Homo sapiens: one gene and its partner. The protein of the gene in region 2 purifies or fractionates together with the protein of the main gene of each other region. This does not show direct contact. Each region holds a gene or a part of one and is shown on either strand. Other genes may lie near its edges.

Region 1 (7,458 bases), on a different chromosome or scaffold from region 2:
AAACGGAGGAAATAAAGGCTCAAATTGACCTTGCCTGATGAGGGAAGTCAGAATTACATTGTTGGGGCAAAGACTGGAGTGTTGGAATTGAACCAGTCAACTCAAGAAACAGTAAAGCCTCTTAAAGAAAAAAAACAGAGGCTAAAAAACCACCGTTGAGATTGGGGTTGACAGCACAATAGAAAACTGCATGGCAGGCTTGGAGAAGACAGTTACCTTGATAAAAGATAAGATGCTAAGAGTCTAGGGGAGTGGGAGGAGTCTGAGTAAAAGTTTCGAAGAGTTTTCCGGACACCAGGAGAAGGAGCTGAGAAACTGGGGAATAAGGAAGGTAGAAGGGAAAGGATAAGAAACTAAGAAATGTGAAAGAGCTGAAGAAAAGGACTTGCAGGGAGATCAGAAATAACTATGTAGCTAGAAAATAAGGAAGCCAGAAGAGCACAGAGAGGGATCCAGACACTAGAGAATAATCCAAGATCAATGTCAAGTCAAAAGATGGAAAAACTGATTAAGGAAAAACACCACAAGAAATTCAACAAGAACGAATCAGGTTGAAATTCTAAAGAGACAGGAAAAGTCTGAGGTGATGAGGGAAGTGCTAGCAAGAATGTTAAAACCCATGAAAGCATGGAGGCTCAAGGAACCCAAGGAGAGTGGGATGGGGCAGGTAGGGGCAGTTTGATCCTGCGTCAGAGTTCCAAAGGGAAAGCTAGAACTGGGGAACGAAGCAGCAAGGTGACCTGAAAGCTCAGAATTGACGCAGGAGTCCCTCCAGGGGAAGGCGTAGAATTGGAGAAACCCTGGGCAACGTGATGGAAGCAACCACTTAACAACGGCTCAAGGGAAGAAAGAAAAAGTGAAAACCAAGAATAAGGAAGGAGCAACTGAATAGCTAGAGCATAAAGGCCTATGAATTGAAGAGATTGGCACAAAGCTGGAGAAACGGAGGGACTGCCAGAGAATGATGCGGGGACAGAAGGGTAACCACAGAAGAGGCTGAAGACTGGGGAGCAGGTGTAGTTGTCTGAATGGGTATGAAGGCTGAGCGCTAAACAAAAACAATCAGACAGTAAAAGCAGAGTTAAAGGAAAGTCAGCACTGTTGGCAGCTTGCTGCTGGGAGCGCCAAAGATACTGGAGGCATGGGGAAGGCAAGATGCGGAGGTGAAATTCTAACCTTGGCGTGGCCGTGCTTGCCAGTCTTCGAAGTAGACATCTCGACGATCTTACATGGCCGGCCTTTGAGCACCACAAAGCCATTCTTACGTAATGCTGAGCACTGCATTGGGAAGGTGGCTGAGGCCCCTGCATCTCCTGTCTCGAAGTCCAAGTCATCTGCCATTTTAAGAGGCTTCGATTCCAACTAGAGCCAAGAAGAGAACTGAAGTGAATAAGCATGGAGGTCAACAGGACCTCCAATCTATCCCATTTCTCTCCAGAAACATTTTCCCAACTCTTTATTCCATTACCCACCTAAAATAAAGTCAAAGTTCCTGAACTTAAAATACTGACTGGGCTCAAATATACTCAAGAACTGGTGTGTGTATGGGAGGGTGGAATAGCTGGTTTCTCCCCCATAAATCAAAGCTAAAGTGGTGGCTTGGGAAAGGAAGGCTCTAGGGAGCTGGAATGTCAAATCTCAGAGATGAGAAAAGGCCTACTTCCTGGGAGTGGGGAGGACTCAGGTGTTACTTGCCACTGAAACCAACCACCCCTCTTCCCCACATATAGCCAGGGCTATAATTAGGTGAGCAGCTATGATCCAGCAAAAGGGCAGGGCTAATTGGGGGGGGGGAGGGTGGAGACCGGAGGACAAGGCCCCACCCATCTGTTACACTGCCCCCCCCCATCCACACACAAACCAGTCACTGCTACAGGAAACCACAAGGCCTCTTTGGGGGATTCCCGCCTCGCCAACATGCACTTGCAACAAGCCAAGGGGGAGAAAGCAAAGTTGTTTCCGAAATGATCCCCCTGCCAAACACCTCGATCTTGGTTCCCAAAGAGAACCCAGGAACCCAGCCTCTCCTGGAAGGCCCTCCCACTTTTCCCAGGATGCATCTGTCCTGTCGGCTTTTCAGGCCGGGCCAGTACAGTCAGTAGAAAGTGGGAGAGGTGGGGGGTGGTGAATGACAATAAAATGAAAGCAAAAGGTTGGTAGTAGTGAGTAGTAGAAAATCATACTAGGCTAGTAGAGTTAAGGACTTCGAAACCGTGGAACTCCCAAACCAGTTACAACAGGAAGACAGTGACAAGGTGAAGAACGCCTATCACGGTGGGAAACTCATCTGCCTGAGGCTTTTAGGCGCTGTCCACCCAGGCCGACAGAAAAGTTGGGCTCCTGTCCAAACGCCCTGTTTCCCCATTTCTCCGGCCTCCCAGCTCGAAGGGGTGCCACTTACACCTGGCTGACCGCCACACTTCACAGGAGGGTTTTTCAGGAAAGCTCCTGGGGCCCTTGAGGTTGGGAAGCGCTAACATATGCCTGCAGCAGGCCCTCCGGGGTGATTAGGACCCGAGCCTCCGGCTTCCACTCCTCAAAATCTCAGGCCCCCTCGGAACCCCCGCGAGGACTAGCTCCCCGCGCTAGGGGCTGCCGGCTCCTGCCGACCATGTGGCCGTTCCGGGCTTCCGGTGGCCGGGACCTGGGGGGAGGGGTCCCCGCGCTGCCATGCGGCCCCGGTCCACGCTTGGCCATGCGGCCTGCGACCCCGAGGGCAGCCTCCCGTGGGGGGCACTTCCGGTGCCGCGGCCGCCCCCTCCTCAGAGACTGCGCCAGGCCGGAGCCACGCCGCCTCCCCTCCCCCCGGCCGTCCGCCAACCCCCCCCATCATGCCCTCTCACCGAATAGCCCCCTCCCCCACCTCACGTGGCCGCGCTGAGCCGGGTCCTCAACGGCCCAGGTACCCTTGCCCCGGTGGGCCGATCTGGCCCCTGGCCCTCGCCCCGGCGTGGCCGCCTGGCGGCCTCTCCCGCGTGGCTGCCTCGCGGCTCGCCGTCCCCCGCCCTGCGTCGCTCCAACGTCACCGGGCCAACCCCAACCGTCACCCCGCGCGCCAACCGGGGCGCGCGCCCGCGCCTCTCCTCACCTCGCGCCGCTCTCTGGCCGAACCCGTGCGGCGGCGGCCGCCGCTCCCCTCTGCCCCCTCCCCGACCCCCGCGCAGTTCCATCTTCTCCCGGGCCCAAGCCAAGGTACCGCGCACACGCGCCCTGCCCGCTCTCACCTCGCGCGAACGCACTGACTCGACCCCGTCCGCTCGCCGCGAGCCCAACCGCTGCCTCCGAGCCCGCTGCCGCCGCCGCCGCCGCCTCTACCGCCGCCGCCGCTGCTGCACACGGGTCTTAGTACGCAGGCGCCGACTCCCCACTGACCAACCAAGCAGCCCTATGACAGCCGCGCAAGCGTGCTATCTATCTCCTCCGCCCTCCACCCCCGCACTGCGCAAGCGCACACACCCTACCCATCTCCACCCTCCCTCCCACCGACCCGTCCAATGACGCGCATACGTGACCCCGCCCCTCACAAACCCTGAGCGTTTTCAACTAATCTGCAACGCGCAGGCGCACCCGGTTTTTTAATCTCTTCAACCTCATCTTCCCTCCCCTTGATAGACCGCTCGTCCTACCGGGCAGTCCTTGCGCCTGCGCAATAAGGAGCCCTGCACTCCACACCCTCTAAAGGAAACGCCTGGGTCTCAGAACGCATGCGTGTTCGGAATCCTAAACAACCCCTTCCACCTCAGACGCCGTCAGTACGCCAGGCGTTGAAAAGACCACGCCGCTAGATCACTTGTCTCGTCTAGAACGCATGCGTCTCAGGATACGCCCCACCTCGGCTTTAACTGGACTTAAACGACTCACACGTTTCAGAAAACTTGCTCTGTGGGGTGGGCGCCTTGTCTTGGAATCAGTCCCCCCAGTTCCACACATGCGCGGGAGATGTCTTTCCGCCCCACTCTTCTAGCGCGCTAGTGTGGTCGGGTTCCCACCCATCTCGGCTTCACTTCTCTAAATCGAATGCCTATGCTCTGCCATAGAGTTCACCCGAGAAGATAGAGCGGTCCTGCGGCGGACACCATCTTCTTTAAACCCTCAGTCCGTATTGGTCTCTATGGCATCCATAGAGGCCATTCGGCTCTGAGGTCCTCAGTAAAGAAACTTAGATGGTATTACTGTGTTTTCCCCAACTGTGCTCTGCGGTTCCCCAAAGTATTGTCTACGAGGTCCCTTAGAAAAAATTGTCTATAAAAATGAGTGGTGGGCCGGGCGCGGTGGCTGACACCTGTAATCTCAGCACTCTGGGAGGCCGAGGCGGGCGGATCACCTGAGGTCGGGAGTTCGAGACCAGCCTGACCAACATGGAGAAACCCCGTCTCTACTAAAAATACAAAATTAGCCGGGCGTGGCGGCGCATGCCTGTAATCCCAGCTACTCGGGAGGCTGGGACAGGAGAATCGCTTCTCCTGTGGAGGTTGCCGTGAGCCGAGATTGCGCCATTGCACTCCAGCCTGGGTAACAAGAGCGAAACTCAAGTCTCAAAAACATAAATAAATAATACATAAATAAAATAAAATAGTGGTAGGCCGGGAGCGGTGGCTCACGCCTGTAATCCCAGCACTTTGGGAGGCCGAGGCGGGCGGATCACAAGGTCAGGAGTTCAAGACCAGCCTGGCCAACGTAGTGAAACCCCCGTCTCTACTGAAAATACAAAAAAATTAGCCGGGCGTGGAGGTGGGCGCCTGTACCAGCTACTCGGGAGGCAGAGGCAGGAGAATCGCTTGAACCCAGGAGGCGGAGGTTGCAGTTAGCCGACATCGCACCACTGCACTCCAGCCTAGGAGACACAGCGAGAGACTCTGTCTCAAAAAAAAAAAAAAAAAAAAAAAAGTGGTATGTTAGATTACATTGACATTGTCTTAATCATAGGAGACCATGAAGCTGGAGACGAGCTATCTTCCCAACTTTATTTTCTTTGCCCTCCCTCTCTCCGCCCCCCATTTCGCTTTTCCTGAAACTTCGTAGTCTTCTTCCAATTCCTGGGTTTCTTGCACTACCTTCATGGCTGCCTTGTTGGATAACAAGACTGAAACAAGCGGCCAGGCGCAGTGGCTCACACCTGTAATCCCAGCACTTTGGGAGGCCAAGGCGAGCAGATCACTTGGGTCAGGAGTTCCAGACCAACCTGGCCAACATGGTGAAACCCCGTCCCCACTAAAAATACAAAAATTAGCCGTGCCGTGGTGGTGCGTGCCTGTAATCCCAGCTACTCGGGAGGCTGAGGCAGGAGAATCGCTTGAACCCAGAATGTGGAGATTGCAGTGAGCCGAGATCTCGCCAATGCACTCCAGCCTGCACGACAGAGCAATACGCCATCTCAAAAAAAAAAAAAAAAAAAAAAAGACAGAAACAAGCGACCAAAGATCTTGGGATCTCATCCTTCTTTTGTGTCTTTAAGGAATTACTTCAGATAGCTCTGCCTTAATTTTCTTCCCATAAAATGAGAATAATAATGATGCCTGAACTTCCCAATTTTTCAGGACGTTGCAAAAATTCTGCAACATGGGTTGGGCATAGTGGCTCATACCTGTAGTCTTAGCTTTTTGGGAGGTCAAGGTGGGAGGCTCCCGTGAGGCTAGCAGTTACAGACCAGACTGGGCAACATAACAACGGCCCATCTCTACAAATAAAAAATTAAAAAAACAAAAACAAGAAAAGCTCAGCTCAGTGGCTGGTGCCTGTAGACCTAGCTACTCTTTCTTGGGAGGCTGAGGTGGAGGGATAGCTTGAGTCTAGGAGTTCGAGGCTTCATTGAGCTATAATCCCCACCACTGCACTTGAGCCTGGGCAACAGAGAACCTGTTTCTTAAAAAAGAAAAAAAAAAAGTCTTGTGACACGATACATGTGAACTGCAAACACTAGATTGAATTACTACATTTGTGTAGCCTGTTATGCTAACCCCCAGCTACTTCCCCTCAATTTTCTGAAATTCATGCCCTTTCCTTTGTAAAAAAAAAAAACAAAAACAAAAACAAAAAAACGCAAACAACTTTGTGAGTACATTGTTCAAAAGTCCAACACCTGCTTTTCTCAAAGCAAAGTATGTATTGTTCATGTGACCCAGCAATTCCACTCCAACGTATATATACTCCCAATGAATTAAAAACAGGTACTCAAAGAAAATCCGGGCCGGGTGCGGTGGCTCACGCCTGTAATCCCAGCACTTTGGGAGGCCGAGGCGGGCGGCTCATGAGGTCGGGAGATGGAGACCATCCTGGCTAACACGGTGACACCCCGCCTCTACTAAAAATAAAAAAATTAGCCGGGCCTGGTTGTGGGCGCCTGTAATCCCAGCTATTTGGGAGGCTGAGGCAGGAGAATGGCAAACCTGGGAGGTGGAGCTTGCAGTGAGCTGAGATCTCGCCACTGCACTCCAGCCTGGGCAACAGAGCAAGACTCCATCTCAAAAAAAAAAAAAAGCAAATCCGGGCATGTGAGTGTTCATTAGCAGCAGTTATTCACAGTAGCAAAAAAGGTGGAAAGAACCCAAATGTCTGTCAATAGATGAATGGATTTTTAAAATGTGGTATATCTATACAGTGGAATATTATTTAGCCATAAAAAGAGATGAAGTACGTGCTATAACTGGATGAATATTGGAAAACATTATGCTAAGTGAAAAAAGTCAAGATGCAAAAGGTCACATATTCTATGATTCCACTCTTAGAAAACATCTAGAATAGCCGGGCGCAGTGGCTCACGCCTGCAATCCCAACACTTTGGGAGGCTGAGACGGGTGGATCACCTGAGGTCGGGAGTTTGAGACCAGCCTGACCAACATGGAGAAACCCCATCTCTACTAAAAATACAAAATTAGCCTAGTGTGGTGGCGCATGCCTGTAATCCCAGCTACTCAGGAGGCTGAGGCAGGAGAATAGCTTGAAGCAGAGGTTGCAATGAGCCGAGATCATGCCGTTGTGCTCCAGCCTGGGCAACAAGAGCAAAACTCCATCACACACACACAAAAATTAACCAGGCGTGGTCATATGTACATGTAGTCCCAGCTACTGGGGAGGCTGAAGCAGGAGGATTGCCTGAGCTTAGGAGTTCAAGGCTGTAGTGAGCTGTGATCACACCACTGCACTCCAGCCTGGGTAACAGAGTAAAACCCTGTCAAAAAAAAAAAAAGAAGAAAAGAAAAAAACAGAAATGTTGTACATAAATGTTCAAAGCAACATTATTACTTTTTTTTTTTTTTGAGACGGATTCTTGCCCTGTCACTCGAGCTGGAGTGCAGTGGCACGATCTAGCTCACTGCAACCTCCGCCTCTCGGGTTCAAGCGATTCTCCTGCCTCGGCCTCCTGAGTAGCTGGGATTACAGGCACCTGCCACCACGCCTGGCTAATTTGTCTATTTTTAGTAGAGACGGGGTTTCATCATCTTGGCTAGGCTGATCTTG
Region 2 (7,662 bases):
GTGAGGATGCTCAAGCAGTCTTTTGTAGGGGCCCACGTGGCAAAAAACTGAGCCCTCCCACCAACAGCCATGTGAGAGAAGTGGGCTGGCAGCAGCTCGTCCAGCCCCAAGCGAACCTTCAGATGATGCAGCCCCAGAGCGTCTCCACTGAGGCCTTACCAGAGGCCAGACCCAGAGCCAGCCAGCTAAGCCAGGCCCAGAGCAACTGTGTGCGACACTGTTTACTGTTGTTGAAGGTAACCAAGTATGTTTTTTTGTTTGTTTTTGAGACAGGATCTTGTTCTGTCGCCAGGCTGGAGTACGGCAGCATGATCACGGCTCACTGTAGCCTCGAACTCCCAGTCTCAAGTGATCCTCCTGCCTCAGACTTCCTAGTGGCTGTGTCTACAGGCACACACCAGCATGCCCAGCTAATTTTTTTTTTATTATTTGTAGAGATGGGGTCTCACTTCTATGTTGCCCAGGCTGGTCTCCAACTCCCAAGCTCAAGTGATCATCCTGCCTCAGCCTCCCAAAGCATTAGGATTACAGGCATCAGCCACTACCCCCAGCCATTATGGGGATTTTTGTTACACAGCTTAGATAACAGATTCAGAAGTACTTTCAATATGTAAACTGGACCATATCACTCCCTTGCTTAAAATCCTCCTATGCCTCCTCACTCAACTACTTGACAGTCCCAAAGGCCCTTCATGACCATCTCCCATCACCTCTTCCCTCTCTAGCTCCACTCCAGCCACACAGGCCTCCTCGCTGTTCCTCCAACACGCCAGGCCCAGTGCAGCCCTAGGGCCTTTGCATTTGCTGTGATCTCCATGAGGAACATTCTTCCCTAGATGTCCCCACGTAGCAGGCCAGGCCTCACTAACACAGGCCTCCATAACTGTTTCAGCACTGACTGAGTGGTTAAGTTAAACATTAAAAGCTAAAAGAGCCAGTGCCCTCATACAAAGGCTGGAATGTAACAAAAGCCCATGAAGAGTTTTGCCCAGGCCTTTCCTGGGCCTTAAGGCATGACAAGATAATGAAGGAATTTTTTTTTTTTTGAGACAGAGTTTCGCTCTTTTGCCCAGGCTGGAGTGTAGTGGCATTATCTCGGCTCACCACAACCTATGCTTCCAGGGTTCAAGTGATTCTCCTGCCTCAGCCTCCCGAGTATCTGGGATTATAGGCATGCACCACCATGCCCGGCTAATTTTGTATTTTTAGTAGAGACAGGGTTTCTCCATGTTGGTCAGGCTGGTCTCGAACTCCCAACCTCAGGTGATCCACCCGCCTCAGCCTCCCAAACTGCTGGAATTACAGGCTTGAGCCACCACACCCAGCCAATAACGAAGGAATTCTTAATGTGACCCGTTTAGGATGAAACAAGTTTTACTGGGTGTCTGAAGAACTCCCCAAACCTCCATGATTTAGCAGGAGACAAGATAAGGATGATCACCCCAGCACCTGGACCCACTGGAGATGAGATAAGGGTGATCACCCCAGCACCTGGACCCATTTAGATTAAGTAAATTTACTGAGGTTCCAAAGGAAAGTCTTCAGGATTCAGATCTTAGTTATAGATTAAAAGAAGTTAGTCACTTTAAGTCTTTAGATGGATGCTCAGTTACATGTAGATGGAGAGCTTAGAGGGTATATAAGCTCTGGAAAACTTTGTCATTTTGAGTTGGTCTGGCGATATTTTCCAGGCCTTCTCCCTGTAACCGGTTACAGAAATAAAAACTCTCTTCCTCCCCAGTTAATCTGCATCTCGTTATTGGACCATGAGAAATAGCAGCCCGACCCTCAGTTTGGTCCAGGAACACCCGTGCTCATCCTCTTGCTTTCCTGGGTCTCCAACATCACTTCCTCATGGAAGCCTTCCCTGATCACAATGGACAATGTTACTCTTCCATCTCTTTTCACTTATTCAGCTTTATTTTTCTCCACGGCGCCTAAGACTCCTAGATATCATATTGGAAAGTATTGGTTTAGTTGCTTGTGATTGGTCTTATCCCTCATTAGAATAGAACTCTGAAGGCTGGGACTGAGTCTATCTTGGTCACTGTTGTATTCCCAGCACTTAGTGCAATGACCTGCACGCAGTAGGGCCTCAATAAAAACAATAACCGGCTGGGCGCGGTGGCTCACGCCTGTAATCCCAGCGCTTTGGGAGGCCGAGGTGGACAGACCATCTGAGTTCAGGAGTTCGAGACCAGCTGACCAACATGGTGAAACCCCATCTCTACTAAAAATACAAAAATTAGCTGGGCGTGGTGGTGGGCGCCTGTAATCCCAGCTACTCGGGAGGCTGAGGTAGGAGAATCGCCTGAACTCGAGAGGCGGAGGTTGCAGTGAGCCGAGATCGTGCCATTGCATTCCAGACTGAGCTACAAAGCAAGACCCTGTCTCAAAATAAATAAATAAAATAAAAACGACAACCGTGACAATAGCAGCTGACACTTATGTAGCATTTGCTACGCGCCAGGCACTCCATGCTCTTTACATTCATTAATTCATTCGATCTACATCACTACCCTGTGAGGTAGTTACTAAGATTGTCCCCATTTTACAGGTGAGGAAACTGAGGCACAGTTTGGGACTGTGCTTGGGAACTTGCTTGGGAGCAGCGTGAAGAGTTAGGAATCCAGGAAGTCTGGCTCCAGAGTCGGGCTCTAAACCACCAACGCTTTGTTGAATGACTTAGGATAAAAGAACACAGCCAAGGGGAGAAGGGACCCCTCTCTTTCCAGATCGGCTGAGAACCTGGCGGATGCTTCATCTCAAGACAGGCTGGCTATGGCATGCTGGCAGCCCTCTCTGGTGAACAGTGGCGTCAGCAAGGCTGCCTGGGCTTGACGAGGGCAGTGTAGCCACCTAAGCACAGGTGACCATCAAAGGAGAGTGACACCTTTAAAGAGGGGTCATCAGAAACCAGAGGGCAGGCCTGTGCGAGCTGGCAGGGCACTGGGGACCATTGAGACCCAACCGTACGACATAGGAGCTTCAGGACGTGAGGTGGGCACTCTTTCATGTAAAAAATCCCAGAGGAAAGAGATCGCCGGGACTCGAGACCCCTTAACCCGCCCCATCCACAGTCAACGAATCCCTGAGACCGGATTCCCTAACGAGGCGCTCCCGGTGCCACCGCCCGCCAGACCCGGGCCCCACACCGTGATCGCCGCCTCCGGGACGCCTCACCGAGCTCTGGAGACTCAGGACCCGTCGGCCCGGCCAGTAACCGCAGGCGCCTCTGCCACCACCGCTTCACCTGCCGCGACGCCCGCAGTGCGGTCTGGGGGCCGCCATTTTCTCGCCCACGTGACCGTGCCGGACGGCACCAACGCAGCCGCGGGTGAGACCTAGTGAGAGGCTCCGTGCATGAGGGAGGCCCGGAAGGCTGAGTCGGTGCTGGTGCCACAGCTCATGCAAACGCAGGAACAGTATTCCTAGTGCGTTCTTCGGGGAAGGGGACGGGCAACGTATGCCCTTTCATGGGAAAAAATTCTCTCCAACCTCCCCACTGCGGTACAAGAAGTGAGACTGGTTTGTGCCGATTCAGCGCCCTGCCTGGGCTGGCTAGCAACGGAGCATGCGCAGTGTTTCTAGGCGTGGTCAGACTCCAGAGGTGTTGGCCAATGGGCTCAGGGAGCTCGAACCTTAAGTAGGTGAGGAATAAAAAAAGGAAGAAATGCAGTCGTTCATTCATTCATGTATGTAATAAATAGTACATGGCCTTGAGGACAAGAGAGCCTTCAGCCCTTACCCTCGTACGCCTCCCAGTGTTGTTATAGAGACAGAAAATAACACGATAAGTAAATGCAATACCTATTAGATGGTGAAAAAGGCTAACGAGAAAAAATTCGGTAGCCAAGGGCGGTGTATGTATAGGGTGTGCAGTTTCAGGAAGGGTGGCCAGAATCTGAGGTGGTGACATCTGAAGAAAGACCTGAAAGAGGCCGGGTACGGTGGCTCACACCGGTAATCCCAACACTTTGGGAGGCCGAGGTGGGTGTTATCACTTGAGGTCAGGAGTTCGAGACCAGCCTGGCCAACATGGTGAAACCCCCATCTCTACTAAAAATACAAAAAGGCTTCAGCTTCCCGAGTAGCTGGGATTACAGGCATGCAACACCACACCAGCTAACTTTTTGTATTTTTAGTAGAGACAGGGTTTCACTATGTTGGCCAGGCTGGTCTCAAACTCCTGACCTCAGGTGATCCACCTGCCTTGGCCTCCCAAAGTGCTGGGATTACAGGCGTGAGCTACTGTGCCCTGCTTGCAATCTCTTATTTTTAAAATGTGGGTGACTGCCAGGAGTGGTGGCTCATACCTGTAATCCTGGCACTTTGGGAGGCTGTGGGGTGAGAGGATGATCGATTGAGCCCAAGATTCCAAGACCAGCCTGGGCAATGTGGTAAGCCCCCGTCTCAACAGAAAAAAAATTTTTTTTAATTTGGCTGGGCGCAGTGGCTCAGCCTGTAATCCCAGCTACTTGGGTGGCTGAGGCAGGAGAATCGCTTGAGCCTGGGAGACACAGGTTACAGTGAGTTGAGATCCTGTCACTGCACTCCAGCCTGGGCAACAGAGCAAGACTCCATTTCCAAAAAAAAAAAAAAAAAATCAACTGTGCCTGGTGGCTCATGCCTGTAGGCCCAGCTACTCAGGTGGCTTGATAGCTTGAGTCCAGGAGTTCAAGGATCCAGTGAGCTGTAATCACACCACTGGATTCCAGCCTGGGTGACAGAGCAAGACCCCATCTCAAAAAAAAAAAAAAAATGAGCAATTAATAAAAAAACATGGCTGGGCATTGTAGCTCACGCCTGTAATTCCAGCACTTTGGGAGGCCAAGGCAGGTGGATCACTTGTGGTCAGGAGTTCAAGACCAGCATGGCCAACATGCTGAAACCCCATCTCTACTAAAAATACTAAAATTAGCTTGGCCTAGTGGCGGGTGCCTGTAATTCCAGCTACTCAGGAGTCTGAGGCAGGAGCATCACTTGAACCCAGGAGACGGAAGTTGCAGTGAGCCAAGATCGCGTCACTGCACTCCAGCTTGGGTGACAGAGTGAGACTCCATCTCAAAAAAATAATTAAATAAAAATTAATGAAAAAACATAAAATGCTGTGCATAGCAAAGAAATCCTTTTGGAAGGCCAACTTCTATTTTAAGACAACATTCACAAATACTTATTGAGCAACTACTGTGTGCTGGACAGTGTCCTGAGCACAGAGGATAGTGTCCTGGGCACAGAGGACACAGGACAAAACAGACACAGTGTCTGGCCTCATGGAGCTGACACCCCCACTTTTATTTTTTTGAGACAGAGTCTCGCTCTGTCACCCAGGCTGGAGTGCAATGGGGCGATCTCAGCTCACTGCAAGCTCCGCCTCCTGGGTTCACGCCATTCTCCTGCCTCAGCCTCCCAAGTAGCTGGGACGACAGGTGCCCACCACCAAGCCCAGCTAATTTTTTTGTATTTTTAGTAGAGACGGGGTTTCACCGTGTTAGCCAGGATGGTCTCGATCTCCTGACCTCGTGATCCGCCCGCCTCGGCCTCCCAAAGTGCTGGGATTACAGGCGTGAGCCACCGTGCACGGCCCACCCCCCCTTTTTTTTTTTAAATTATTGTATTGCCTTCCTATGTGTTGGAAAACTGACTGCAGATAACAGGCATCACTGCAGCCCTCAGCTGCCTTGCGAGGACGTCATCTCAACATGTTTGTGGCTCAGGCTGTTTACGGAGGACTTCCCGTGGACCAGGAGCTGTGCTGACTCAGGAAGGCTACGAGGGCAGGGTGCCAGGTGTGACTGGCCCCAAGGATGCTCCCCAGGAGGAGATAATCCCAGGGTGCAGGACGCAGATATCGAAGCCTCAGCCAAAAGCAAGGCCTGTGTAAGTCAGAGAACTTGGCATCTGGCCTCTGTAGACCTTCGAGAAACTGATAGCACAGAAGAACCAAGTCTGCGTCTTCTGTTCGGTGGGTCCTCTGGGATTGAGCAAGTCCCTGGGGGGCGGAAGTCTGGAATCCAGGTATCTGCAGATCTGTGGCCTCTCTGGAGGCTCCAGGGGAGGATCCTTCCTGCCTCTTCCAGCTTCTGGGGGTGGCCGCCAGTCCTTGGTGTTTCTCAGCTTGTGGCTTCGTCACTCCAATCTCTGCCACTGTCATCACCTGGCCTTGACCCCTGTGTGTCTGTCTCTGTGTTTCTGTGTTAGAATCTCCCTCTCCTCTCCTTTTATTTTATTCTTCTGAGACAGAGTCTTGCTGTGTTGCCCAGGCTGGAGTGCAGTGGCGCGATCTCAGCTCACCGCAACCTCTGCCTCCCGGGTTCCAACGATTCTCCTCCCTCAGCCTCCCGAGTAGCTGGGAATACAGGGGCCTGCTACCATGCCCGGCTAATTTTTGTATTTTTAGTAGAGATGAGGTTTCACCATGTTGGCCAGGCTGGTCTTGAAGGCCTGACCTCAAGTAATCTGCCCACCTCGGCCTACCAAAGTGCCGGGATTACAGCCGTTAGTCACTGCGCCCAGCTCCTCTTTCAGATCTTTATTAAAACATCATCTTTGCAATAAGAGCATCCCCGAGCACTGCATCTGAAACTGTAACCTCTTGCCTCCTCCTTTTCCCTGTTCTCTTTTCTCCTTAACTCAGCTCCAAAGGGGATTTTTTTTTTTTTTTCTGGAGTGCAGTGGTGCAATCTCGGTTCACTTCAACCACCGCCTCCCGGGTTCAAGGGATTCTCCTGCCTCAGCCTCCCGAGAAGCTGGGATTACAGGCGCGTGCTACCACGCTCAGCTAATTTTTGTATTTTTAGTAGAGATGAGGTTTCGCCATGTTGACCAGGATGGTCTCGATCTCTTGACTTCATAATCCGCCCTCCTTGGCCTCCCAAAGCACTGGGATTATAGGCGCAAGCCACTGCGCCGGGCAAGAACTTTTTAAATAACAGCTGTATTGAGATATAGTTTACATACTGTACAATTCATCTGTGTAAAGTGATAATTCAGTGGTGTTTAGTATATTCAGAGTCGGGCAGCCATCATCACATAAATTTTTTTTTTTTTTTTCCGAGACGGAGTCTTGCTTTGACACCCAAGGTGGAGTGTGGTGGCATGATCTGGGCTCACTGCAACCTACACTTCCCGGGTTCAAGTGATTCCCCTGCTTCAGCCTCCCGAGTAGCTGGGACTACAGGTGCGCGCCAGCACACCCGGCTCATTTTTGTATTTTTAGTAGAGATGGGGTTTCACCAGATTGGCCAGGCTGATCTTGAACTCCTGACCTCAAGTGATCTGCCCGCCTCAGCCTCCCAAAGTGCTGGGATTACAGGTGTGAGCCACAGCTCACGGCCATCACATCAATTTTAGAACATATCCATCAACCCCCCAAAATAAAGTCCATTCCAGTCACTCCTGATCCCCCTCTCCCAGCCCTTGGCAACCACTAATCCACTTCCTGTCTCTATGGATTTGCTTATCTGGACATTTCGTATCAATGGAATCACTCACTATGTGGTCTTTTGTATCTGGCTTCTTTCACTGGGCATGATGCTTTCGAGGTTCATCCAATCTGTAGCCTGTGTCCGAGCCTCATTGCCTCATATTGCAAAACACCGTGTCATTGTATGAATGGAGCATTTTCCCTTCATCTGTGGATGTACATTTGGGTTGTGTGCA

Evidence for each region. Proteins that work in one complex are often made in the same cells at the same time.
Region 1: the proteins of DOHH (region 2) and EIF5A purify together in Homo sapiens (affinity purification with mass spectrometry; 3 studies listed by BioGRID and IntAct, with this or other methods). This does not show direct contact.

Annotation. Positions count from the first base shown.
Region 1 is NC_000017.11:7,303,519-7,310,976, reverse strand, and holds the start of EIF5A (eukaryotic translation initiation factor 5A-1), read right to left. Parts: upstream 3,350-7,458; 5' UTR 3,225-3,349; intron 3,009-3,224; exon of another isoform or gene 2,844-3,008; intron 2,605-2,843; exon of another isoform or gene 2,402-2,604; intron 2,007-2,401; exon of another isoform or gene 1,862-2,006; intron 1,363-1,861; coding exon of another isoform or gene 1,342-1,362; coding exon 1,177-1,341; coding exon of another isoform or gene 690-1,176; exon of another isoform or gene 1-689. UniProt on the Homo sapiens protein: Translation factor that promotes translation elongation and termination, particularly upon ribosome stalling at specific amino acid sequence contexts.
Region 2 is NC_000019.10:3,497,378-3,505,039, forward strand, and holds the start of DOHH (deoxyhypusine hydroxylase), read right to left. Parts: upstream 3,298-7,662; 5' UTR 3,184-3,297; exon of another isoform or gene 2,558-3,183; intron 1,630-2,557; exon of another isoform or gene 1,362-1,629; intron 237-1,361; exon of another isoform or gene 1-236. UniProt on the Homo sapiens protein: Catalyzes the hydroxylation of the N(6)-(4-aminobutyl)-L-lysine intermediate produced by deoxyhypusine synthase/DHPS on a critical lysine of the eukaryotic translation initiation factor 5A/eIF-5A.